7 linked regions of the Homo sapiens genome follow. The protein of the gene in region 3 interacts with the protein of the main gene of each other region in a biochemical or structural test. Each region holds a gene or a part of one and is shown on either strand. Other genes may lie near its edges.

Region 1 (3,983 bases), on a different chromosome or scaffold from region 3:
TTCCTCTGAGTGGGACTGAGCACCCTCTCCTTAATTGCATTCTCATTAAACAAGCCCTTAATAAATACACACCAGGGGAAACAGGGTTGTGCAATAGAGCACCCTCACAAGTGATAATTAAACACAGATCACAGCAATTAAGTAAATGGGGGAACAAGGAAGGAGTGGGCAGGACAGAGATATTACCAGTTACATGCTTAGGAAGAGATTGGAAAGCACATAAACCTCAATGGCAATAATATAGCCTTGGAAACTGCTTCTCAGTTTAAGAAAAGGGTATTTTGTTAGGTTATCAAAAATCACTTTGGTCTCAGTCTGTGAGACTGGGTTTGATACGGGGAGAGGGGAAGAGGACTCCTGGGAGTTCACTGCTCTGTACCCAGTCTCCGAAGCTGTGAAAAGAGCCGCTCTAGGCCCCTCAAGTCTTTATCCTTCCACACTCATGCCCCAGAGCCTCACTTATTCTTCAGCCCTAAGCACAATCACTATTTACCTTCCCCCTCACCAGACTTGAGTTAAGTGGGAAGCAGCGTGGTGTGACAGAGCCCAAGAAACTTAGATTCTGTCCCACTTGGCCATCAATTGGCCATGAGCCCCTAGACAAGTCACCATCCCTCTCTGGACCATGACTTCCTCATCCCTAGGAGAGTTCTGTGCTCTGCTTCCCAGAGTTGCTGCCAACTCTGATGTTCCCAGGGAACACCTCCAGTTGGCTGTCCAGTCGTCTCTGTATCTCCCCCACTGGACTGAGAAGCAAGGATGTCATCTATGTCCCAAGCTCAGACCAATGCCCCTGTGAGGGCTCAGTCAGTATTACCTGGTCAAGGGCCAAAGGGACTTTGGTTGGAGTCCCTCTGCAGACCAGAGGGGCAGGGGACAGAGCAGATGAGGCCAGTCCTGGGGCCTGCAGGTCTCCCACCTACAAGTCACTCTGCTTTCTCCTGGGCTCCCAAAGGGTAGCTCAGAAATTCATCTAAACCTATATCAATAGGCCTTAGCCCCTACCTGGTCTATACAGCTGAACAGTCCTTGGAGAAGGTGGGGCTTCCACCTGGAGCAATGTACCAAGACTGTGCCTACAATCCCCCTTACACACGTGCACACACACACACACACACACACACACACATCATTTTCAGGGCCCTCTTGGTTGCCCACAGAGGCCTGGTTCTATGAGTATTCTAACAAACAAGGGACTGGCATCCCACCACCCAGGAAGGTAAGCCAGAGGTGTGAAGTGGGGTAGTTTAATGACTGGCTGAGTTTGAATTCCTCAGTGATCCTTTACCCCTGCCATTGCCACCATGGGGACCTGGGCTGATCTGAGATGGGATGAGGGGAAGTAGCATGGAATGGCGCTGTGCCCACCCTGTGAAAAGGAGCCTCAGGCGTCACTAAGGCCCACTTCATTAAGGTCACTGTGAAACCAGCATGACATCTGTGCCAAGGTACAGGAGAAAACAAGGGTGTCTTCCATCTAGCGGTACAGAGGTAAATAAACATCCCAAGTACAAGAAATACTCTCTCCCCTCTTCACCACCAGGCACCAACCTGCTAGATCTGCACACAGTTTACATTCGCAGAAACAGTAGCCACTTCCCTTATAGGGTTCTGTCTCCCTGTTTTCAGCAGAAATACCTACACCGTGTGTCTTACCCAATGCAGGGAGCTGCCAAAAGCCAAATCTGACCAATATAAACAGGAAGAGATGCCGTTGCCAGAGATGGAGTCGGCTTACATTAAAGTCTGGCTATGATTTATGAGGAGATTACATCCTGGATGAATAAATATCATTCCCTAATCTCTTGGAGTTTGACACTCAAAACTCTCATGTGCATATTAATAGATATTAATAATGCTTCTTCCTCCGTGTCCTCTGGACATGTCTTCTCTGTCTCCATATTCACTTCAAAAATGAAGAGCCAGGAGCAGGTCAAACAGGTCTTCCCTACGGAATCTCTTTGTAGGAAGAGAGACAAGGCCGTTCCTAAAGGGCCTTGAATGATCCCGCAAGCCCCTCCAGCCCCTTCCAGCTTTCAGGTGCTGCTGTAGGGAAGGCAGTGGCTCCTGAGGGAGGTACAGGGCAGAGGAGCAAAGCAGGAAAAGGGCCCAGGAAGAAGGGGACTCCCCCACCCCCAACTGGTGCATGCCTGGTGCCTGGGAAACAAGCAAACGGCTCTGGGCCGGGATGGAAACCACCATTCCAACAGTCACACGTGCAACCCACCTGGTATCCCCTGCACTCAAGGCACGGACCCCCCTCCTCCAGCATCCTGAACCTCTGAACTCTGGAGACCCGCGCTGCAGCCCCAAGATCCAGCTCCAAATACCTGGAGCCGAAGGTGCCAAGGACAGCAAAAAAACTAATCCTGAGACTGGCGGGCTGATGGGGTAGAGAGGGACGCACACGGTCCCCAGGGAGCACAGCCTATGAACCAGGCAGGAACCAGGCAGGAAGCCGGCGGCCACCATCCTCATTCCGTGCCGCACTCCAAAGCCCACCCCATCCAAGGCATCTTCCTTCTCGAGTGTCCCCTTCTTTGGGGGTGGGGGGAGGCAAGAGAAGAGACCAAGCTGGGGCTGCCTTACCCAAAAGCCCAGTGCCCAGCCATCTCGCCGGGGCTTTGCCTCCGTCCCCAGCCCCGGGCATAGTCCTGTTCTCTCCGGAGCGCGCGGGGGTCGCGGGGATGGGATACTGGGCACAGCCGCGCTCTCCGCCCGAGGTCGGCGTTCGGCCACAAAGCTACCCCGGAGCTCTGCGCCGCCGGTCGGGGCTCGGGAAAGTTAGCGGGCAGAGAGCGAGAGGAGGGGGAGGGAGGGAGCGGAGGGGGAGGCGCGCTCGCCCGCTGCTGGGAGCCGGCTGCTGGAGCAACGGCGGGAGGGAAGGAGTAGGAGGAGCCGGAGCAGGAGCGGGAGGAAGACGGAGCGAGCGCAGCGGCGAGCGAGGCTGCGCCTCTGCTCTGGAAGCGCTCCAGCCGCAGGAGGGGCGGTGGCCGCCGCGTAGGCCGGGGAGCCCCCGCCCGCTGCGCACCCTGCCTGCCGCACCCCGCCTCGCGGTCCCGGAGCCCCGGGACCACGCCGTGCCCCCAACTCCCTCTCCAGTGGGGCTGGGCTGCTGCGGCTGGCACTGCAGGGCCGGCCTGCAGCCACCCGCATCATCCCATGCGCTGAGCTGCCAATTAGGAGCATAGTTCGGGGGGAGTAGAGGTGGAGCTTTTCGGTTGCTGGAAGACTGTTTTGCTTTGCTTGGGGGAACACGGGAAGGTTAGCGGCTCCCTCTCCCAGGACCGCCAAGGGACCGCTTTAAAGTCCGCAGCGGACGCTGCCGCAACGGGTGGGCGTGTGCGGGCTTGCCCACTGCAGCTTGCGCCTCCTCGGTGGCGTGCGACATGGCGCGCGTGCAGCCTCGGGACCCGCTCCCGCCACCTTCTGCCCCATCGCTCAGCAACTCCGGCGGTTGTTTTAGGAAGCCCGGAACAGAGCTTTCCCATTGCAAACTGCCCCGGCCCTCCCTTCCCCCACCCCCACGCCACCCCGCCCCACATTTCTCCATGGACCCCTTGGAAATCACCACGCTCCAGGTTAGGGAGCAGGTTGGTCCGCGCCTGGTCTGTGTCCTGCGCCCCATTTCACCCTCCCGCTGCACCCCTGCTTCTCATTTTTCCTACCTAGGCCGTCCCCCTCAGATGCTGCCTTTTCGCCCTCCTCCAACTCTCCTGTTTTCTTCGGAACGGCAGACTCCCTCGGCCTCCCTTTTGGGGTAGGGGTGGAGGAGTCCAGGGTGACAACCAGGTCAGAGGGCTGAGGCGAGGCTGTGAACGAGTAAGCCTTTTCCCAGACAGGCCCAAGTGAAAGAGTTTCACCTGAGCGGTGCTACTTGGGCTGGTGGTTCTGTAAATGAGTCGATCTCCTCCTCAGCACCTTTCCAACCATCCAAGACCCTCCCTGCATCACAGGCCCTCTTTACTGTCTAGGACTGGTCC
Region 2 (2,700 bases), on a different chromosome or scaffold from region 3:
GATTAGCAAGCAGGAGTGAGTGATTAGAAACACCATGACAAATTTGCATCTATTACTAAGTATCCGTAAGGAATTCACTAAAATCCTGACATATTTTAAAAGTCAAATTCTGCTTTAGCAATAGCATGGTTGAGCTTGAGGGACTCAAAGCAGTTGCTAATTATAACCAGCATAGAAATCTGCACCAACCAGTTCAGAGTACGGTCAAATCACAGTCTTGCCCCTAGGTTAAATATGAAGGGGTGGAATGGGCAGTTAAATTCACTGACTGTATCTACATGGAAAAAGAAAAATACTGGGGAAAGGCAGCAATTTATTCTTCATAACAACATTCATGTTAACTTTAAATGAAGTGAATGTACAGTCAGCAAAGATAATTGTGAAGATGTGATGGATTTTTGCAGAAGGCTCTTGTTTTCCTTCTCGGAAAAGGCTTGATTCCCGAATACTATGATTCTTTAAATGACCAACTGAATAGTGAAGAGTTAAGAAAGGCAATACACATTTTTGGTGTTTTTATTAATTAAAGACTACAATGCCCATTTCCAGTTTTTTCACGGTGTGCGGAGTAGGTGAGGTCCATCCTCTGCAAAGCATAGGCCACATCTAATTCATTTGAGGAGATGCAAATAGGTCTGATAAAGGGGCAGATAAAAATGAATGCCTTCATGTAAATATTCAATCATAAGATATTTAGGAACGTGCACATCCATGTTAGAATTGAATCTTACTTTAACTGAGCTCAGTTTTGACAGTCAATTGCAGATTTCTGGTTGACCCTAATTTTTATACTCGTATTTCACTGATAATATGTAATAATACCCCTACATATTAAATATACATAAATATCATCTTCATATGCTTTCAGATAATAAAAACTTTTGAAAGGCATGGTAGAATACAGACTTTTATCTACCATTTGTTGGATTAACAAGTAGGAGTGTTGAATGTTGAGAAAAATTATGATGAATTTGCAGCTTTTACTTAGTAACTTCATGGAATTCACAAAAACCATGAAACCTCTTAAAAGTCACATTCTACTTTGAACTCTGGGAAAATCGATTCCTTCTCTCACTGTCAAGTATCAGTTCTGATGACTCCGACATCTCCTCTTCAGGTAATGTTGGCAAAGCTGCAGGCCAGTCTTAGGATGGAAAGGAAGGATGCCATCGCCGTGTTTTGAATTGTCAGCCAAGTGCTCAGTGGAGCTTGGGGAAGGCTTTGCTATACTACAGTTGTATTACTGACCTTCTCAGGACTGGCCAGATTAAAAGAAGCCTGTGGATGACTTGCTGGCCTGGGTGGACGTTGATCAGCCCGCTGGCAACAGAGGAGGAAAAAAGTCAATTTAATGGGTTGAGATCACTGTAAAATGCAAACTTGAAAAGAGAGCTTCACTCATCTGTTAAGATAAAATTAAGGTACGGAGAGGAACAAAAATGTTAAAATAAGCTCTTCCTTTCTTGCATTATTTCTGGTAACACACAATATAGAAGTTTTCCAAGTTCAGGCCCTAAAGGGCAATCCAATTCCAAGAATCAGTATTTGTTTTGACTAAGGCAAATTACCACGACTCATTGTTTTGTTTTGTGTTTCAATTTTCCTAAGGAAGTTCTTGCTTTACTGGCTAGATTTTTTATGAAAATATAAAATATTTCTAAACTTCTTAAAGAGCGTGCATTGTTTCTAGAACAGGGGGACAAAATTGAAGAACTGACTCCAGATAGATCACCCACCTGTCTCTTTTCCCTATCAGGGAGAAACATAGTCTTCCCTGTTCTCATTCAGAAATGTAATCCCAAACAAACCATTTAATCCTCCAGAGTGGCCAATGCCTGTCTCATAATATTGCCTTATTAAAATGTGTGCAACACTTTTTTCCTGCCAGTCCTGAGAATGGCAGCTCAGGTTCCAGGGCACAATAGCTGCACTTAACATCTTAAATAATGTAACTGGGCATGATAAATTATTCACAATGTGATGGAATGCTAGCAAGTCTTGAGGATAGAATTACTCTGGCTCACGCTCTTAATTTGTTGACTCCCAATAACACAGGGAAAACTGGACAGCGGATGGAACTATGTCAGCAGTGCTTTAAGACATGTGCCTTCTGCTGCTAATATGCTAGAGATTCCTACTGTCGTTTGCTTTTGTTTTCACTGCTGGGTTGTGCAAACATCGCTGTTTTCTAAATTTATCAAGTATGTATTTCTGTTTGTCTCAATGAGGGGGTGATTTGTGGGGAAGGCTTGATCCAGGTCTCAAGTTGTTTATATGCCCATCTTCTGAAAATGACAGAGACAGAGAATTTCCTAAAACAGCCAGGAAAATGCACTGACAGTGAGTTAAGGCACAGGACAAAGAGAGGAAAAGGAGGATTCTTTGTTTTAAATATTCGCCAAAATAAAAAACATTTGCAAATCCCCTGGCTTCATATTGAAATAAAAAAGCATGCCTTTCCCAGTAATTGGTTATTTTAGTAGGAATTTCTAATTTTACTTATTACTTTTACCCTAATGTGTTTCAGCTGCAGTTGCACCCAAATTCATTCTGTTTCACCAACAGGGAAACTCTTGTCTAGAAAACCATGTCAGTACTACATATTCTAACTGTAGATTCAGTCATCAGAGAAATAATCAGAGAAGAAAATTGTCATATTGTATATGACAGTTTTGAAAATGAATCTCTTTTTTCCTTCTG
Region 3 (3,500 bases):
CCACCCCAGTAGAGAAGCCCCAGCATCACCTGCACTCATCCTACTTGTTTTCCATTTCTCTCCATTTTTTGAGTGGAAATGCATGTATAGGCCCATTTGTGGAGAATTGATGTCTTTTTCTTTGGGAGACAATATTGAATCTTCCAGTCAATGATCACAGTATATTCCTCCATTCATTTTTATCTTTAATTTCTCCTAAGAACACTGTGTACTTGTATGAGAAAAAGTCTTATACCACTCTCATTAAATGTATTCCTAGGCATTTAAAGTGTGTTAAAGCTACAGAAATTGGATTGTTTTTCAAATTTCATTTTCTAATTATTTGTTCCTGGTGTAAAAATATACAGTTCGTTTTATATTCTGAGCTTAAAAAATTTATTTTTAATTCTTGTGGGTATGTAGTAGGTGTATATATCTATGGGGTAGATGAGATATTTTGATACAGGTACGCACTGCATAATAATCACATCAAAGTAAATGGGGTATCCATCACCTCAAGCATTTATCCTTTGTGTTACAAACAATCCAATTAAATCTTTTTAGTTATTTTTAAATGTACAATTACATCATTATTGACTATAGTCACCCTAGTGTGCTATCAAATACTAGGTCTTATTCATTCTTTCTATTTTTTTTTGCAAAACTACGGAAGACTTCACAAATTTGTGTGTCATTCTTGCACAGAGGCCATGCTAATCTTCTCTGTATCATTCCAATTTTAGTATCTGTGCTGCCTAAGCGAGTACGTATTCTGAACTTTTAAATTCACTCATTAATTCTAAGTTTAGCCATACATTCTTTTGGATTTTCTATATACATAATCATATCATCTGTGAAAATGACAGTTTTATTTCTTACTTTCTAAACTTTATGCCTTTCATTTCTCTTATTTGCCTTATTGGACTGGCCAGACCTCCCTTACAAAGTTGATGGGGTGATTACACAGACCATCCTTATCTCCTTGATACTCTCACTCGCTTCATTTCTGATGCCTGAGGTTGTCCTTACTTTCCTGTGACTGCACCTGAGCATTTCAAAGGAGTTTGAAGCTGGAAGCTTGTCTGGTCACCTGCTGGACCCCAGCCTCCCTGCAGCATCCCTCCTTTTGCACATGCCTCATTTTGCGGGGCTCTGCCTGAGTTAAAGGCAGGGTTCAGCCTGATGGGGCATATTCTGGTTTCTCCTCTATGTGCTGACAGAGAGGGGAAGGAAACTCACAGATCCTGCAGCAGCCATGCCCTGTGCACACCACCACATTATCTTGTTCCACCTCATTCACTTCTCACAGTGGCCTTGGGAGGAGGTAGGTGCTGCGATCACACCCATTTGACAGACGAGGAAACAGGCTCAGAAAAGGGAGGTCTTTGGCGAAAGCAGCGTCTACCAAGAGCTGGAAGCAGACCCCAGGCCTTTTAGCGTTTTCTACCCTGTGCTTGAGGCCCCATCGAGCGGGTTATGTTTTTCACATTCCTCATCTAAGTCTCCTTTCTCAGTACTGGGCTGACACGGGCAAGAACAGGTGCCAAAGTGAGAAGGGACGCACCATCAAGCTGGTGGGCTCCCTGCGCTGCCTCAGGGCTCAGCCCTCCGGGGCACCTTCTGCTCCTTCCTCAGGCCTCGTCTGAGCCTGCACATGCCCCCGCCTGCCCTTGAAGAAGGGCTCTCCTACCACCCCAACCTCTGCGGCTCCAGCTTAGCCTAGTGTTAGCAGAAGAGGCTCAGGGGTCAGCCAGGCCTCAGTAGAGATCCTGGCTCTGCCATTCGCCAGCTGTGGGAACTTCGCTCTCCTCCCCAACCTCACACCCATGGAAAGTGAGACCTGACCCAGCGGCCCACGCGCCCTCCCATCCTCAGCGGCAGCGGGAGAAAAGACGGGAGAAGGTCTGGTCCCCGCAGGTGGCAGAGGCCACTTTCCCCACTCTGCTCCAGCCAGGTCTTTTTCATGAGGGGAGGGTCTGATTAGGGTTCAGCCTGGGTATGAGTGGCCTGAGTCAAGGTCAGGACTCAGTCTGGGCCAGCGTCAGGGCTCAGCCAGAACCGGAAACAGGGCTCAGTCTACGGGAGGTTTCTCAGCCTTCGCACTATGGGTATTTTTTGCCAGATGATTCCTGTGGTGGGGGCTTCTCTTCTGCATTGTAGGAAGCTGAGCAGCATCCTTGGCCTCTAACCACCAGATGCCAGGAGCATCTGTGGCCAACAAAAATGACTCCAAACATTGCCAAACGTGCCCTAGGGGAACCATATCGCCCCCAACAGAGAACCATTGCTCTATAGTCAGGAGGGGACTCAACCTGGGTCAGGGGTGGGGCTCAACCTGAGTTAGGGGAGGGGGTTCAACCTGGGTCTGGGCCAGGCTCAGCCTGAGTTAAGGGCGGGGCTCAGACTGACTTAAGGGCTGGGCGCAGACTGAGTCGGAGGTGGGGCTCAACCTGGTTCCGGGCCGGATCCTGTAGAGTTGAGGGCGGGGCTCAGCCTGGCTCCGGGCCGGATACTGCTGAGTTGAGGGCGGGGCTCAGCCTGAGTCAGTGTTGCTGGTCAACTTGGGCCTATGGAAGCCTGACAGCGTTCCCACCTGCAGCTGTAACCATTGAGAAAGGTCCCAGTTGCCAACTACCGTGCTCCGCCAGACCAGGGCTGGGCTCTCTTTGCTTGCCAGCAGCTGATAAATAACAAATCAAATAGCAGTTAAGCCAGGAATCATTTCCAGGTCCCCTGGGGTTGGGTCCTCAGCAGCTCCGCTCATCCGCCTTCCACCTCCAGTTCACATCAGCCACCACGGATTCAGGCGACACCCCATTAAGTATAATGCCTCCCATTACGGTTTCCTAATACGCACTTCATTTAGATTCAACAAGATGTTTCTGAGCTAATAAAATCAAAAAGACTGGGTTCTATCAACTGTGTGACAGTGAACGTCTCTGGTATTTCAGGAGGGCAATTCTGGAATTAAAATACGTCTTATCCTGTGCAGATTAGATTCTGTCCCTGGAAAATCCCTCTCTATCTCCAGCTGTCTTGGGAAGACCAGAGATAAGCTTGCTAGCTCCAGGTTTATGAATCCTAAGAGAAAAGTGGGGGAGGGAGAAGGATTATCTCTTAAGGAAAGGATAAGGAAGCCAAAGCCCAAGTTCACCAAATTCAGAGCAGTGGAATCCCAGAGTGGATGTGGAGCTGTGAGCCCTAATTGTAAAAACAAGTCAGAAATTCAGACGGAGGAACAACGGCACCCCCAAGAGCTGGATGCTGAAGCACAGGGTGCCCGATGTTGGCTGGCGAAGGGGGGGACCCATGCCCTGGGTCTCCGTGGTGCCCTCCAAGTTTGTCTCTGACACTGCCTGTCTTCCCTTTCCTCACCCCAATATTCAGATTTTGCTCCAGTGCACTACCGGGTGCTAAAGTGGGTTACAGTGACAGCTTAGGGACAGCGGAGGTGCCGGAGTCTGCTGGTCTCAACACCGAGTGGCTGCAACTCCCTTCCTGCTACAATTTTTGGCCGGTTT
Region 4 (3,500 bases), on a different chromosome or scaffold from region 3:
TGTGCCCCTCTGCCAGGTCCCCCAGACACCTGCTCCTCCTCTAGCATTCTGTTTTGTTTTCTGAGACAGGGTCTCGCTCCGTCACCCAGGCTGGATCATGCAGTAGCATGGTCACGACTCACTGCAGCATCAAACTTCTGGGCTCAAGCAATCCTCCCGCCTCAGCCTCATGAGTAGCGGGGACTATAGGCACATGACACCATGCCCAACTAATTTTTTTATTTTTGTATTTTTTGTAGAGATGGGGTCTTACTACATTGGCCAGGCTGGTCTCGAACTCCTGGCCTCAAGCAATCCTCCTGCCTTGGCTTCCCAAAGTACTGGGATTGCAGGCATGAGCTACCCTCCTCTAGTATTTCTGTAGCTTGAGTGAACTTCTGCTGTTCTAGGTACCCACAGTTCACCATCTGCCTCCCCACCCATCTACGAGACCCTTGAAGGCAGGGACATGACTTTCCTCTGTTTTTCCCAGGCTCAGTTATAGAGCCAGCTGTGGGCAGCTGCTTGGGAGGCGCTGGTTAAACCGAATGGAGGAACCAGTGGAGCTGAGATGCCCGTGCCCGCAGCCACCAGACCCTGGCTGAGCTCTCTCCAAGGTTATTACCTGGAGGCCATGGAGTGGAACTTCTGGAAGGCAAGAGAGAGGGAGGTTAAGGCTAGAAGGTGGGAAGCTAGGGCACTGTTGGGAAGGGGAAGGCCCTGGCGGGTATGGGGATGGGACGCCTCCCTGTCCACTCACCCGGATGAACTTGTGGTGGTCCTCATTGCCGAACTGTTCCAGCACACACTCGGCTTGGGCCAGCCGCTCCCGGGTTCCCTGGGCCTGCTCCAGCTGCATGTCCAGGGAGGCCACCAGGCCACGGGTGTGACCCCCTATCCCCTCCAGGCAGCGGGCCTTCTCCTCATCCACCAGGTGGTGCAGCTCCTGGAACTCGCGGCGGATCACCCAGCTGAAGACATCCGACTCATTCTGGGACAGGGAGGGCTGGTCACTGCAGAGTCACAGCCGAGCTGCCAGGCTCTGTCTGGCTGGCCTCGGTGTCCCCAGGGCCTTCCTGACCGGGTTGGTCCTGGGACCTGAGTCTCAGGGGAGGCTGCATGGCCTGGCGCCGGGCAGGGAGTTCACCCCATGCATGGGGAGCCCTGGCGGTGGCCGTGGGGAGGGTGACCCCAGCTCCCGTTTCAAATGGAGAGGCTCTGTTTTGGCCTGTTTTAATTTTTTTTTTTAAGAGACAGGGTCTCACTCTGTTGCCCAGGCTGGAGCACAGTGGCATGATCATAGCTCACTGTAGCCTTGACCTCCCAGCCTCAAGCAATCCTCCCGCCTCAGCCTCCCGAGTTGCTGGGATTACAGATGCACGCCACCACACCCCACTTTGCCTATTTCAGCTATTAAATGTGCATATCCCAGAGTTCCACAACTGAAGGAAAGCAGGAAGGCCCTAGGCGAGCAGGCTTTGCTGTGAGGGAGCCAGAACTCCCTGCAGAACCCTGAGCTCCGCCTCCACCAGGCAGGGCTGGTACCGCCTGCCGCGCAAGGGTGAGGAGGGTAAATGAGGGAGGCTGAGTGCTCCTGGATCTTGCCCGGCTCCTGTTTCTGTTTCACAGCCACCTCCAGGGCCGGGGCACTATGGCTCCCAGCCCCATGTGCCTCTCACTTCGGGAGATCAGCCAGGGCCCAGGGCTGCCAGCCTCTCCACGCCTGAGCACCCAGGTACTGGGAGGGCACCATGACAGGCTGGCAAGGTCAAGCAGACACAGGTGGCACAGGGGCGGAGGAGTCATGCCCATGCTTTGAGCTGTTTACCCCCTGAGACTCAAGTCCTGGGTTATCTCAGTCTCAAGGACACAGAGGGCAAAAGCCAACTTGGAGCCAGTCCTAACGACAACTGGGTTGAATTCCCCTGAGAGGATTTGCGCTTTCCCCACCCCGCCCTGGGAATGCTTTGAGTTCTGGCTTTATATGGAAGGCATGGTTTTCTGTAAAGGACCAATGAGAACTGAGTTCTACAGGAAAGTGAAGGTGGCCGGTCCCAGGCAGGGGCAGAGGGAAGGGGCACTCACGACGATTCGGGTCCGGTTGTTCACCAGTTTGGCGATGAGCTCATCCACCTTTTTCTGCTCCTGCTTCAGCTCAGAGATGAGGGCTGCGAGCTCCTCCTGGAGGCAACAGGCCATGGCCCCATGAGCAGCTGATCCCTCCCCTTCTCAGCTCCTTGGATCACCTTCTTGGGAGTATCCCAATGGCCACAAGCACTCCCAGGGAAACCAGGGCGGGAACCAGAGCCACCCAGGTACCCTTGAGTCCAAAACAGGTTAAATTGTTCGAGAATAGTCTGGGCGCAGAAGCTCACGCCTGTAATTCCAGCACTTTGGGAGACTGAGGTGGGACTTCACTTGAGGTCAGGAGTTCGAGACTAGCCTGGCCAACATAGTGAAACCCCATTTCTATTAAAAATACAAAAATTAGCCAGGCGTGGTGGCATACACCTGTAGTCCCAGCTACTTGGGAGGCTAAGGCACGAGAATCGCTTGAATCTGGGAGGTGGAGGTTGCAGTGAGCCAAGATCATGCCACTGCACTCCAGCCTGGGTGACACAGTGAGACTCTGTCTCAAAAAAATAAAAATAAAAAATAAGATAAATTAATTCAAGAATATTCTAGGCTGGGCGCAGTGGCTCACGCCTGTACTCCCAGCATTTTGGGAGGCCGAGGCGAGTGGATCACCTGAGGTCAGGAATTCGAGACCAGCCTCAACATGGAGAAACCCTGTCTCTACTAAAAATACAAAATTAGCCAGGCGTGGTGGTGCATGCCTGTAATCCCAGCTACTCGGGAGGCTGAGGCAGGAGAATTGCTTGAACCTGGGAGGCAGAGGTTGTAGTGAGCCAAGATCGCGCCATTGCACTCCAGCCTGGGCAACAAGAGTGAAACTCCGTCTCAAAAAAAAAAAAAAGGAATATTCTAGGCTGGGCACAATGGCTCGTGCCTGTAATCCCAGCATTTTAGGAGGCCAAGGTGGGAGAATCACTTGAGGATAGGAGTTTGAGACCAGCCTGGGCAACACAGTGAGATCCCATCTCTAATTTTTTTTTAAAGAATATTCTGCATTGACAGCAGGAACTTCCCAGGCATAAGAGGGTCTCAATGTCACCCCTCTGCATGACATGGAGAGAGTCACTAAACGTTACAGCTACCAGAAGTCACCATGTGATGCTGGCACTTCCTGGATTGAATGCTGCCTGTAGGGGACCCATCAGGTGAACTCTGTGGTCACCAGCAGATCCAGAATTAGTGGGTATTTAATCAGGAGCCATCACAAAAAGGCCGGCGCCAGGTGAGGCTAATTCTAGGGCCAGTGGTGCTCACACGGGCCTGGGTTAAACCTGGTGAATCCCCACACCCATAAACACCTGAATCCATTCCTGGTGGGCTTGGACACAGCACGGATTTGCGACCTCCCCAAGCTGACATAAATGCACTTCTCCTGGACTGCCCGG
Region 5 (3,500 bases), on a different chromosome or scaffold from region 3:
AATAATAAATCTAAATAACAAATTTTTGAAAAAGATATTTTCAAATTCAAGGAGTAAAACATTTGGCCAGGCATGGTGGCTCACACCTGTAACACCAGCACTTTGGGAGGCTGAGGTGGGTGGATCACTTGAGGCCAGGAATTCAAGACTGAACTCCAGTCTGACCAACATGGCAAAACCCTGTTTCTACTAAAAATACAAAAAATTAGCCAGGTGTGGTGGTGCACACCTATAATTCCAGCTGCTCAGGAGGCTGAGGCAGGAGAATTGCTTGAACCCGGGAGCTGGAGGTTGCAGTGAGCCAAGATCGTGCCACTGCACTCCAGCCTGGGTGACAGAGTGAGACTCTGTCTCAAAACAATAAATAAATAAAAATAAAAATAAAAATTTTGACAGCAATTTTTTTTCTTCTATAAATTGATCTTCTAAAAAACCCAGTATCTTAGAATCAAATGTGATCTGGAAATGTACTTACGAGTCTGCGGATTCTGAAAGGCCACAGCTTTGTCAATCTTTAGCTGAGGCTGAAGGTCAGCTACTTCCCAACGACGAAATTCTGGTGCTGTGGTGACATTGAGCAGGAACTCCATTAGAATATCACTACAGAAGACATCGAGATAAGAATTATGAGTCAAAAATGTAAAGCCAACATTTGAGATTCTACATAGCTGTAATGCTCTCAATGTGAAACTTTAGGTCTTGTGGTAAGCAGTGTTTTTGAGCAGTTTATGAACAATAATCCAAAATGGAAGTCAGAGGTCATAATGACGCATTACAAAGACCAGAAGTGAGCAGCTTAGTATTTCTTTCAAAGCAGAAGTCCTAAACACACACAGGTACTTACACATCACCCCGCAGGCATTCCACAGTATAAGCCATGTTTTCCCTTGTTGCGGTCACACTGAATCGGAAAATAAACTAGAGTAAATCATCTGAATCAGGATAGTAAGCTTTCCCTTATAATCTTCTATCAACCAATTCCTTTGGAAAGAAAATTTCTGAAGTATAAAAGGTGCGAACAATAATATAACAAAACTCCACATATTAACCAACTAAAATTCAAAATTTTTTTAAAAACCAGCAAATAATTCAACCTTAAAAGGAGTGAAATCTGGTCACATGTTACAACACAGATGAACCCTGAGGACATTATGCTAAGGATAATAAGCCAGTCACAAAGGGACAAATATTGTATGATTCTACTTATGAGGTACCTGGAGTAGTCAAATTTGTAGAGACTGAAAAGAGAATGGCAGTTGCCAAAGGCTGAGGGGAGGGGAGAATGAGCAGCCATTGTTTAACAGGTACAGAATTTCAGGTGGGAGAAGATAGAAAAGTTCCGGAGCTGAATGTTGGTGATGGTTGCTGAATGCCACTTAACTGCACACTTAAGAAAATGATAAATTTGGGCCGGGCGCAGTGGCTCACACCTGTAATCCCAGCACTTTGGGAGGCCGAGGTGGGCGGATCACTTGAGGTCAGGAGTTTGAGACCAGCCTGGCCAACAGGGTGAAACCATGGTCTCTACTGAAAATACAAAAATTAGCCAAGCATGGTGGCGCACGCCTGTAATCCCAGCTACCACGGAGGCTGAGGCAGGAGAATCGCTTGAACCCAAGAGGCGGAGGTTACAGTGAGCCAAGATCATGCCACTGCACTCCAGCCTGGGCGACACAGCGAGACTGTCTAAAATATATATATATATATATATATATATATATATATATATATATAAATTTTATGTTATATACATTTGACCACAATTTTTTAAAATGGCAAATAAAGTTGAAGATCTTTTCGTACCCTTCCAAGACCAATTCCCTCACTCTCTCCCACTCTGGAAACCACAATCATAAGCACTACATAGTATTTTTCTGCTTAAAAAATTAAAATACCTTAAAGAAATCTTGAAACTTGCTTGTTCACACTCTATTTTGCCCTTCAGTTGTGCTATGTTGACGTATGGATCTAGTTCATTCCGTAATGGCTGTATAGTGGTCTCATCATGACTCTGTCATACTTTACCCATTTCCCTAAAGATGGACACTTAGATCGTTTCCAGTCTTTATAAAGAATACCTTTGTGAATGTGATTAAAAACTGTGGGGTTTTTCAATATTACCAGATATTCCTTGATTCTTTCCTAAGTGGTTGTATCAATTTATACTCCTATCAGCAGAATGAGACATTCTCTATCATCTTTACCACTGACAACACAATATATAAAAAATCTGGGCTGGGTGCAGTGGCTCACATCTGCAATCCCAGCATGCTGGGCTGAGGTGAGAGGATCACCTGAGGCCAGGAGTTCAAGACCAGTCTGGGCAACATAGTGAGACCTCCATTTGTACAAAAAATAAAAAATTAGCCAGGCATGGAGTCATGTGCCTATAGTCCTAGCTACTTGGGAAGCGGAGGGAGAAGAATCGCTTGGGCCCAGGAGTTCAAGGCTGCAATAAGGTATGTCTGCACCACTCCACTCCAGCCTGGGAAACAGAGCAAGACCCTGTCTTTAATATAAATTAATTAAAAAAAAAGAAATGCTGTTTCTGTCCTGAGTGTTCCACTGACCAGCTGCTCCCCAAGTCTTTCTCCCTCTCTTTGGATATTCCTACTCCTGAGACACAACAATATTGAAATTAAGCTAATGAATAACCCGACAATGGCCCCTAAGTATACAAGTGAAAGGAAGAGTCTCATGTCTCTCACTTTAAATCAGAAGCTAGAAAGGATTAAGCTTCTAAGGAAGTCAGGAAGGCATGTTAAAAACGGATACAGGTCAAAAGCTAGGCCTCTTGCACCAGTGCAGTTCTTGAAGAAAACTAATAGTGCTACTCCACTGAACACATAAATGATATGAAAGCAAGACAGACTTATTGCTGATAATACAGAGTTTTACTGGTCTGGATTAGATCAAACTGTATTCCCTTAAGTCAAAGCTTAATCCAGAGCAATGCCCTAACTCTCTTCAATTATATGAAGGCTGAGAGAGGTGAGATGCAGAAGAAAAGTCTGAAGCTAGCCGTGGTTAGTTCATGAGCTTTAAGGAAAGAAGCCATCTTCTTAATATAATAGTACACAGTGAAGCAGCAAATGCTAATATAGAAGCTGCAGCACGTTATCCAGAAGATCTACATAAGATCATCGATGAAGGTGGCTACACTAAACCACAGATTTTCAATGCTGACAAAACAGCCTTACATTGGAAGATGCCGTCCAGGACATTCGTAGCTAGAGAAGTCAATGCCTGGCGTCAAAGCTTCAAACGACAAGCTGACTCTTGTTGGGGACTAATGCAGCTGGTGACTTTAGGATGAGGTCATTTACCATTCTCAAAATCCTAGAGCCCTTAGGAATTATGCTAAATCTACTCTGCCTATGCTCTGTAAATGAACAAAAAAGCCTGGATGATAGTACATCTGTTTATAGCATGGTTGACTGAATATTTTAAGCCCATTGCTCAGAAAAAAGATTCCTTTCAAATTATTACTGCAACAATGC
Region 6 (3,500 bases), on a different chromosome or scaffold from region 3:
CACCCTTCAAAGATTATTCATTGCAGCAGCATTTGTAATAACTAAAGACTGAGAATAAAGACTGGTTTAAATAAGTTATGGTACATTTTGTGATATTATGCAAATGCAAAAAGAATGAAGATGCTCTTTATGTACTGATATGGAACCATCTCTAAGATAGATGATTATATGAAAAAAGCAAGGTGTAGACAGTGTGTATAACATGCAACATTCAGGTAAAAACAAAAAAGAATACGTATACAAAATTACTCGTGTATGCGGAGAATGTCTCTGGAAGGACACTTGTGAAATTGGCAAAATGGTTGCCTCTGGGAGGGAATCCAGTGGCTGGGGACGGGGTGGGAGGGGACATTGTATTCCCATTTGTACCTTCTGAGTTCTGTGTAAGCAATATCTGCTCAAAAACATTTAACATTTTAAAAGGCTTTCCAAGGGCTTTTTCAAACTGCATTGCTACCTCCATCCCGTCCCTGGTTTCCATACAGCCCTGTGGCTGGAACTGGATGTATCTCTCAGGCATGTGTTGTGGAAAAGGGTGGGACTCCTGTGACCGAGTCTGGTCTCCCTTTGCACCCCCAGGACAGTCCCATGCCCAGTGCAAGCGGCTGCCCGATGAGCACAGGGAGAAGGAAGGAAGGAACAAGGACCCATCTCATCACCATCAGAGCCTGCCCAGTGCCCCATTGGTCCAGCCTGCCCTCGAGGGCGCCTGCTCATGGGCCTTTTCCAAGTTGACAGCTCCAGCTCCCCAGTCAGCTTCACTAGAGCAGGGCCTTGACATTAGCCTCTGGCTCCCTGACTCCAAGTAGCAGGCACAAAACTCTGCTGGGGACCCTGGACTCCCCTCCATATGGGCAGCCTTGTTCGGCTCAGCCTCACCTCCTCATTGAGGATCTCCTGGCACTCGGAGTAATTCACGCGGGCGGCCCAGCTGCCATTGGCCAGGCACTCCCGGTAGCCATTGTCTGGAAAAGGAAGAGAGAGGCAGTGATGGCGGGGCAGCCCCGGCCCCTGCCTGACCATCCTGGCCCAGATGGATGCGTAGATGGATCTGTAGATGGCCAGTACAGGCACCTGCTGGCTGGGGGTTGTGTAGTGAAGCTGGGGAGAGGGGCTTCCTTACCACCCCCATCTTCCTGCCTCTTTCTGCCCATTGGCCTCCAGCAGGGGTTGGTGGCTCCCCCGGCTCTGCCCACTCAAGCTGGCATGATCATGCCCACAGGACTGGCCCGTGGACAGGCTTGACCAGCTCCCTGGGCTGTTCCTTTGCAAGTCATTATGTGGTGGCAGATGACAGGTAGGTGCTCTTCTGAGAAATCTCCTTTTCAGGGGTCTTGCAAGACAGCAAAAAAATGGTGAGACCTCATGAGTCAATTTTCACGAGGCTGGGCATGACACGGTGGAAGGGTATGCGGTGACAGCTCGCGTGGCAGGTGGCATGACAGGGCTTCTTGTGGTAGAGCCATCTCACAGAGGCTGCCGTGGGAGGTCCTCACTGGCTGTGCTGCACATGGGGGCTCAGAGTTCATGGGGCAGATCTTGGGGAAGGTCCCATGGTGGCACTTCCCCATAGCGGGCCTGTGTTGGAAGGTCGTGGTCTGTGGGTGGGGGGAACATCCATGATGGAGGTCTCTTGGACAGAAAATGACAGGTGACAGGCGTGTGTGGGGAGATGTCATCACTCAGGTCTGTCACAGCTGCTCCTAGCCTGGCCCATGTCACTCAAGGAGGAAGGCAGGAGAGTGGCCCAGGGACATATGGAGGTTTGTGCAGCCACCGGCCTGGACTGTGGCCCAGAACCTGTCACCTTCTAAGGAGATGGGGAGGGGCCCTGTGAGCTGAATTGATGCCTGGCTTTAGGGCCCTGGGATGGGCAGAGCTGCCCAACGTGTTCCCCTTACCCTCCTTCATGCCTACCAGGCTTGAGCTCCAGGGTCCTAAAACCTAGCTGGGAAGGGACAGCATGAGTTCTAAATTCCATCTCATCTTCTCTGCTGGCAGAGGTTGCCCCACCCCACCCTGTACCCGGCTCTGGCATCAGTAGCTCTAAACATGCTTCCTTGAGTTAATTCTGGCTCTGACTTCAGGCAGAACTGCCTGGCAGAGAAATGAAGCCCTGAGTATCTCACCTGGAGCCTCCCTCACTGTAGGCCTTCCTGTGGCTCCCAGTGGCCCTTGGGGCTGGAACAGGGCTGGGAAAGCTGCTGGAGTCCCAGTCCTTGAGTCTGGAGCCCCATGGGGCAGAACCCTGTGAGGATCTAGAGGCTGGGGCCCTGGGACCAGCTGAGCTGCTGCCGTGCTGCATGACTGACCTCTGGGGACCCCTTCTCATTTATAAAAGGAGGGGCTGGACTGGCTGATCCCCAAGGGACCATCCAGCCTGGGAGCTGCCTCTGCTGGCAGCATCAGGACAAGAAGGTGATGATAGGGAGCCCGTCCTGGCCTCCAGGGCTGAAAAGTAGATGTGGCCTCTCCTCTCTCGCACTACTCCCCTCCATTCCCCTCCCTGGTCCCCCTGCTGAGGAGCTGCTCAGCTACAGCTGGCCAGTGGGAGATCCGGCTAAATGGATTTTTAAAGCTCTTCCATGTCAGTGGACCGCAGTCTCAGGGAGCCTCAGGCCCTTGGGCAGAGTTGGTGAAGAGGCTGCTGATTCTCTCCAATTGCCAAATGAGGGATGAGTTACCGGAGGGCTGAGGCTCACCCAGTGGGTTTTCATGGAGGTCTGAGGGGAGGGTGAGACGAGGAACCAGGAGAACCCAGTGTCTCTGCCATGGCTGGGAAGTCCCGGGACCAGAGGCTGCTCTGAAATACCTCCAGGGATAGGGGCTTTGGGACAGAGATCCGGCTGGAAGGGGCCCGGGGGTGGTGGGATGGGGTGGGGTGGTTCTTGAGTTAAGAGGCAGCATGGAGTAGTGCTAAGAGCGTGGCCCCTGGACCCAGACAGCCTAGCATCAAATCCTGGCACTACCTTCCACTAGCTGTGTGACCTTGGGCAAATCCCGAAACCTGTCAGCTTCCTCCTCTGTAAGTGAGAGCATCTGAATAGCAGCTCCTACATCAAGAGTTGAATATTTTTAGTTAACATGCACAAGGTGCTTGGAACTGTACCTGGGATGTGATGTTGGCTGTTATTTTTATTATTATTGTCTTGGAGCTGTATTTATATAACCTTACGTGAGACTCAGAGCGTGTCCCTTGTCCCCATCAAAGGGTACCGGTGGATATTGTGGGAGGAGCCCCTTTGCTCAACACCCTTGCCCCCCTTGACATGTGGGGGAGAGTCAGGAGTCCCATCAGAGGCTGGGTCACCCAGAGGGAGCAGGCTTTGATGGGGAGAAAGGAGGTGATCCGAAAGAAAGCAGGCCCAACAAGCAGGGAGCCGTTGCCAGGGAGGATGCGACCTCCTTGTCTTTAATTGCTGAGCTGAGCAGTCCTCCCAAAGAATCACGGGAAAATAGATATTTTTGGAAATGCTTCCCATCCCTTTGAAGATCAGATG
Region 7 (3,500 bases), on a different chromosome or scaffold from region 3:
GAGAGTGGAGCCCTCAGGAATGGAATTAGTGCCTTTTAAAAAGATGCTAAAGAGCTATCTTCCCGCCATGTGAAAATACAAGTCAGCAGTTTAAAACTCAGAAGGGGGCCCTCACCAGCACTGGATCATGTTGGCACCTAGATCTTGGATTTCCAGCCTTCAGAACTGTAAGAAATGAATTTCTGTTGTTTATAAAATGCCCAAGCTGTGGTAATTTGTAATAACAGCCTGAACTGACTAAATCTCCAAAAGACATCCCACAAAAGTATTTTTATAAAGAAGATAATTTTACCACAAAAAGTACAATGTCTTTTGTTCTGGAACGTTCTGCGCTGCCCGCCTAACTCAGTGGCTTTAGAAATATATTAAAAATTCAATTTATGAGAAATTCATAATGGATATATAAATAGGTTATTTCTCATTTTATATAATAAATTCATTTACCTTTGCTGAATAACACTTATGAACTCTACAAAAAAGCACATTTTAGAAGCAATATGATAAATATATAAAAATCAAAATAATTTATCATAATCTCTAATCAATTCTTAATGGATCAAAACAGATCACAAGACATTACAACCATGTTTAGGACTTTAAAGGCCATTTTAAACTGAGTATTGTCTAAAGGGTTATTAGGAAGGTAACATTTGTCAATATTTTCAAATTGTCAATAAGCTTTAAAAAATATCTATATTTTCTAAGTATGCCTCATTGCTGCCTCATTCCTTCTTAAGTATGCTTAAAGAGTTAAGAGCCTGGGCCCTGGAGTTTGATTGTCTAATCTGAGTCCCAACTCTATAATCGTGTTTTGTTTTGTTTTGTTTTGTTTTTATTTTTATTTATTTGTGTGTTTTTAGAAGGAGTCTTGCTTTGTCGCCCAGGCTGGACAGCAATGGCACGATCTCAGCTCACTGCAACCTCTGCCTCCTGGGTTCAAGCGATTCTCCTGTCTAACCTTCCCGAGTAGCTGGGATTACAGGCACCTGCCACCATGCCCAGCTAATTTTTGTATTTTTAGTAGAGATGGGGTTTCACCATGCTGGACAGACTGGTCTTGAACTCCCAACCTCAGGCGATCCGCCCGCCTTGGCCTCCCAAAGTGCTGGGATTATAGGTGTGAGCCACCGCCCCTGGCCAAACTCTACAATCTTTTGTGAGTTATTTAACTTTTCAGTGATTCTTTATCTCTTCAGTGACAAACAGTATCAGCTTCATTGGGTTAGATAAAATGAGGTAACACAAAGAAATCACTTGGGAGATGTTGGGATCAGAGAAAACACGCAGTAAATGTAAGCTGCCAATATTACTCTGATGTTACATCTTCCTCATTGCTAAATTCCGGAGCTATTTTAAATAAACCTAGTCGACTTACTAAACAATAATGCTTTTAAAACCTGTGCCCATTCTTCCATAATGTTAACGTATTTTTGGAAGTAGGAAAACAACAACATAAAACAGTTTTGATTTTTGATTGCATATGACTACATCTAGCTACTACTTCCTAAGAATGATTGTCTCTGGTGGAAAAAACGTTCCCTTTGGCAAACAAAAATAAAGTTATTTTTGTTTTGTACCACATTACTATTTAGCAAGATGATACTTGGCAAAAACAGAATCTATCTGAAAGGCTGAAAATGTATGAGATGGTGCTGGTAATTCATCAGTATTTGTTTGAGATCCAAAAGCCAGCATGAGGTCAACTAATTGTCATGCAAGGGTACTAAAAGCTATTCAAGAGAATTAGAAATCTAATTCCAGAAGCTGACAGGGGAACACAATGTGGTAACTTGGAAGGGAACAGAAATGGATGGAATCGGACTAGGACAGTTCAGATAAATTTTCTTAAATAATTTGCTTATTGCCTTGCTATTTTATGCTGGCACATTGCCCCTCAGGCAGCATCTTTTTTTAGGATGTCATTTCGTTGGAATTTTTTTTTTCTTTATGATTTCTTCAAAACCTCTAATAGTTAACCTGGAATCTCTAAATTAATCTAATTGTCAGTATACAAACTTTGTTATTTTCATCGCATGTTATTTGCTTGAGAAATGCTAGACATCAATATTACATCTAATGCTGATGTGTATATCCAGTCCCCACTCATTAGCTAATACACAAAATATTTATTGAGCACCTGTGAAACGTCAGGAAAGGCTTTAGATTCAAAGGTTATGGCAGTTAACAAAAAAGGTAAAAATATCTTGTCTCATAGAGCCACTAGTGGGAGAGGGCCAACAATAAACATGAAAAAGCAAATTGTGTTGTGTTTAGAGGTGATAATTGTGGGGAGAAAAATAAATCAGAAAGGGAGCTAATATTTTAGCAGGTAGAATAAAATGTAAATAGTGTGACTAGGGAAAAGATGATATTTGAGTAAAAATCTTGAAGAAGGCAAGAGAGGTCTGGGAGAAGACCATTACAGGCAGAAGTAGCTACAAGCACTTCCCTGAGACAGTTAATGCTTGATGCGGCTAAGGAAGAGCAGGGAAGCCAGTTTAGCTGGAATTCAGGGAGGGGGAGAAAATGGGGCCACAGAGGTAACTAGCTGGGAGGAGGGATCATGTAGGACTTTATAAATAACTGTACTATGGCTTTGACCTTTCATTGGGATGACTTGGCAATCATTGGAGATTTTTGAAGACTAGTACAAAAGGTCTGATTCATATTTTATAAAATCCCTCTGGTCATTGTGTTGAAAACAGATTGAAGAAGAGACAATGACCAGTGAGGGGATTATTGCAATGATCCACCTAGATGATAATGGTTTGGATCATGTTAGATTCTGGGTATGTTCTGAAGGCAGACTTCGAGAATTTGCTAATGGAAGAGAAAAATATATAACAATCTTAAATATTCTTAGTCACAAGAAACATGGATAGATAAACAAACAAATAAATATACATATAGATAACAGTGAAAATGCAAGTCCCAGTGCTTACAAGACATCATGGGGAAATCTTAAATACAAAATGTTAAATAAAATAATAGTCTGCAGATTCAGCTTTATAGCAAACTAAGTCCTAGAAAAAGAGAGGAGATGTCAAACAGACATAGTGTATGTGAGGTTTCACAAACATTTGGCATGTTTATTTTTTTAAATCTGGAATACTAGGTACATGGGTGTTCATAATAATATTCTTATACCTTTTGAATGTCTGAAATATTTTCTAATAAATAAAAAATAAAATGCATCACAAAAAGGCAAAAAAACTCCTCCATGATTGGTACCAATAATTAAAGCTTTTTGTTTGTATATTTTTCACTGCTTCCTTGCTGTGTTTCAGGGCAGCATTTGGTCTACATTACATAAGCTTCCCCTATCCCCTACTTACTAATATTTTAGGACTAATATTTTCTCTAGGCAGAAAGTAATCATTTTTCCATTTCTATGATGAATGTATTGAATTTAGCTTTTTTGAATATCCACCCAGTTACTCAATGTATTGAATAATCTATCTTTTTACTCACTAATTTAAAATAACTCCTTTATCAAACAC

What was found.
Region 1: the proteins of GRIP2 (region 3) and SCN4B interact in a test that uses a peptide from one of them, tested with the Homo sapiens proteins (one large-scale study listed by IntAct).
Region 2: the proteins of GRIP2 (region 3) and IGSF5 interact in a test that uses a peptide from one of them, tested with the Homo sapiens proteins (one large-scale study listed by IntAct).
Region 4: the proteins of GRIP2 (region 3) and TRIM50 interact in a test that uses a peptide from one of them, tested with the Homo sapiens proteins (one large-scale study listed by IntAct).
Region 5: the proteins of GRIP2 (region 3) and UQCRC2 interact in a test that uses a peptide from one of them, tested with the Homo sapiens proteins (one large-scale study listed by IntAct).
Region 6: the proteins of GRIP2 (region 3) and CRHR1 interact in a test that uses a peptide from one of them, tested with the Homo sapiens proteins (one large-scale study listed by IntAct).
Region 7: the proteins of GRIP2 (region 3) and KCNT2 interact in a test that uses a peptide from one of them, tested with the Homo sapiens proteins (one large-scale study listed by IntAct).

The regions. Positions count from the first base shown.
Region 1 is NC_000011.10:118,150,024-118,154,006, forward strand, and holds the start of SCN4B (sodium channel regulatory subunit beta-4 isoform 1 precursor), read right to left. Parts: upstream 2,801-3,983; 5' UTR 2,651-2,800; coding exon 2,590-2,650; intron 1-2,589. UniProt on the Homo sapiens protein: Regulatory subunit of multiple voltage-gated sodium (Nav) channels directly mediating the depolarization of excitable membranes.
Region 2 is NC_000021.9:39,799,882-39,802,581, reverse strand, and holds the end of IGSF5 (immunoglobulin superfamily member 5), read right to left. Parts: intron 1,321-2,700; coding exon 1,225-1,320; 3' UTR 501-1,224; downstream 1-500. UniProt on the Homo sapiens protein: Provides, together with MAGI1, an adhesion machinery at tight junctions, which may regulate the permeability of kidney glomerulus and small intestinal epithelial cells. Mediates calcium-independent homophilic cell adhesion.
Region 3 is NC_000003.12:14,530,343-14,533,842, forward strand, and holds part of GRIP2 (glutamate receptor-interacting protein 2), read right to left. Parts: intron 1-3,500.
Region 4 is NC_000007.14:73,318,083-73,321,582, forward strand, and holds part of TRIM50 (E3 ubiquitin-protein ligase TRIM50), read right to left. Parts: intron 2,161-3,500; coding exon 2,065-2,160; intron 993-2,064; exon of another isoform or gene 971-992; coding exon 740-970; intron 628-739; coding exon 605-627; intron 1-604. UniProt on the Homo sapiens protein: E3 ubiquitin-protein ligase that ubiquitinates Beclin-1/BECN1 in a 'Lys-63'-dependent manner enhancing its binding to ULK1. In turn, promotes starvation-induced autophagy activation.
Region 5 is NC_000016.10:21,959,861-21,963,360, reverse strand, and holds part of UQCRC2 (cytochrome b-c1 complex subunit 2, mitochondrial precursor), read right to left. Parts: intron 902-3,500; coding exon 845-901; intron 601-844; coding exon 476-600; intron 1-475. UniProt on the Homo sapiens protein: Component of the ubiquinol-cytochrome c oxidoreductase, a multisubunit transmembrane complex that is part of the mitochondrial electron transport chain which drives oxidative phosphorylation.
Region 6 is NC_000017.11:45,818,820-45,822,319, reverse strand, and holds part of CRHR1 (corticotropin-releasing factor receptor 1 isoform 2 precursor), read right to left. Parts: intron 966-3,500; coding exon 880-965; intron 1-879.
Region 7 is NC_000001.11:196,342,941-196,346,440, forward strand, and holds part of KCNT2 (potassium channel subfamily T member 2), read right to left. Parts: intron 166-3,500; exon of another isoform or gene 116-165; intron 1-115. UniProt on the Homo sapiens protein: Sodium-activated and chloride-activated potassium channel. Produces rapidly activating outward rectifier K(+) currents. Contributes to regulate neuronal excitability.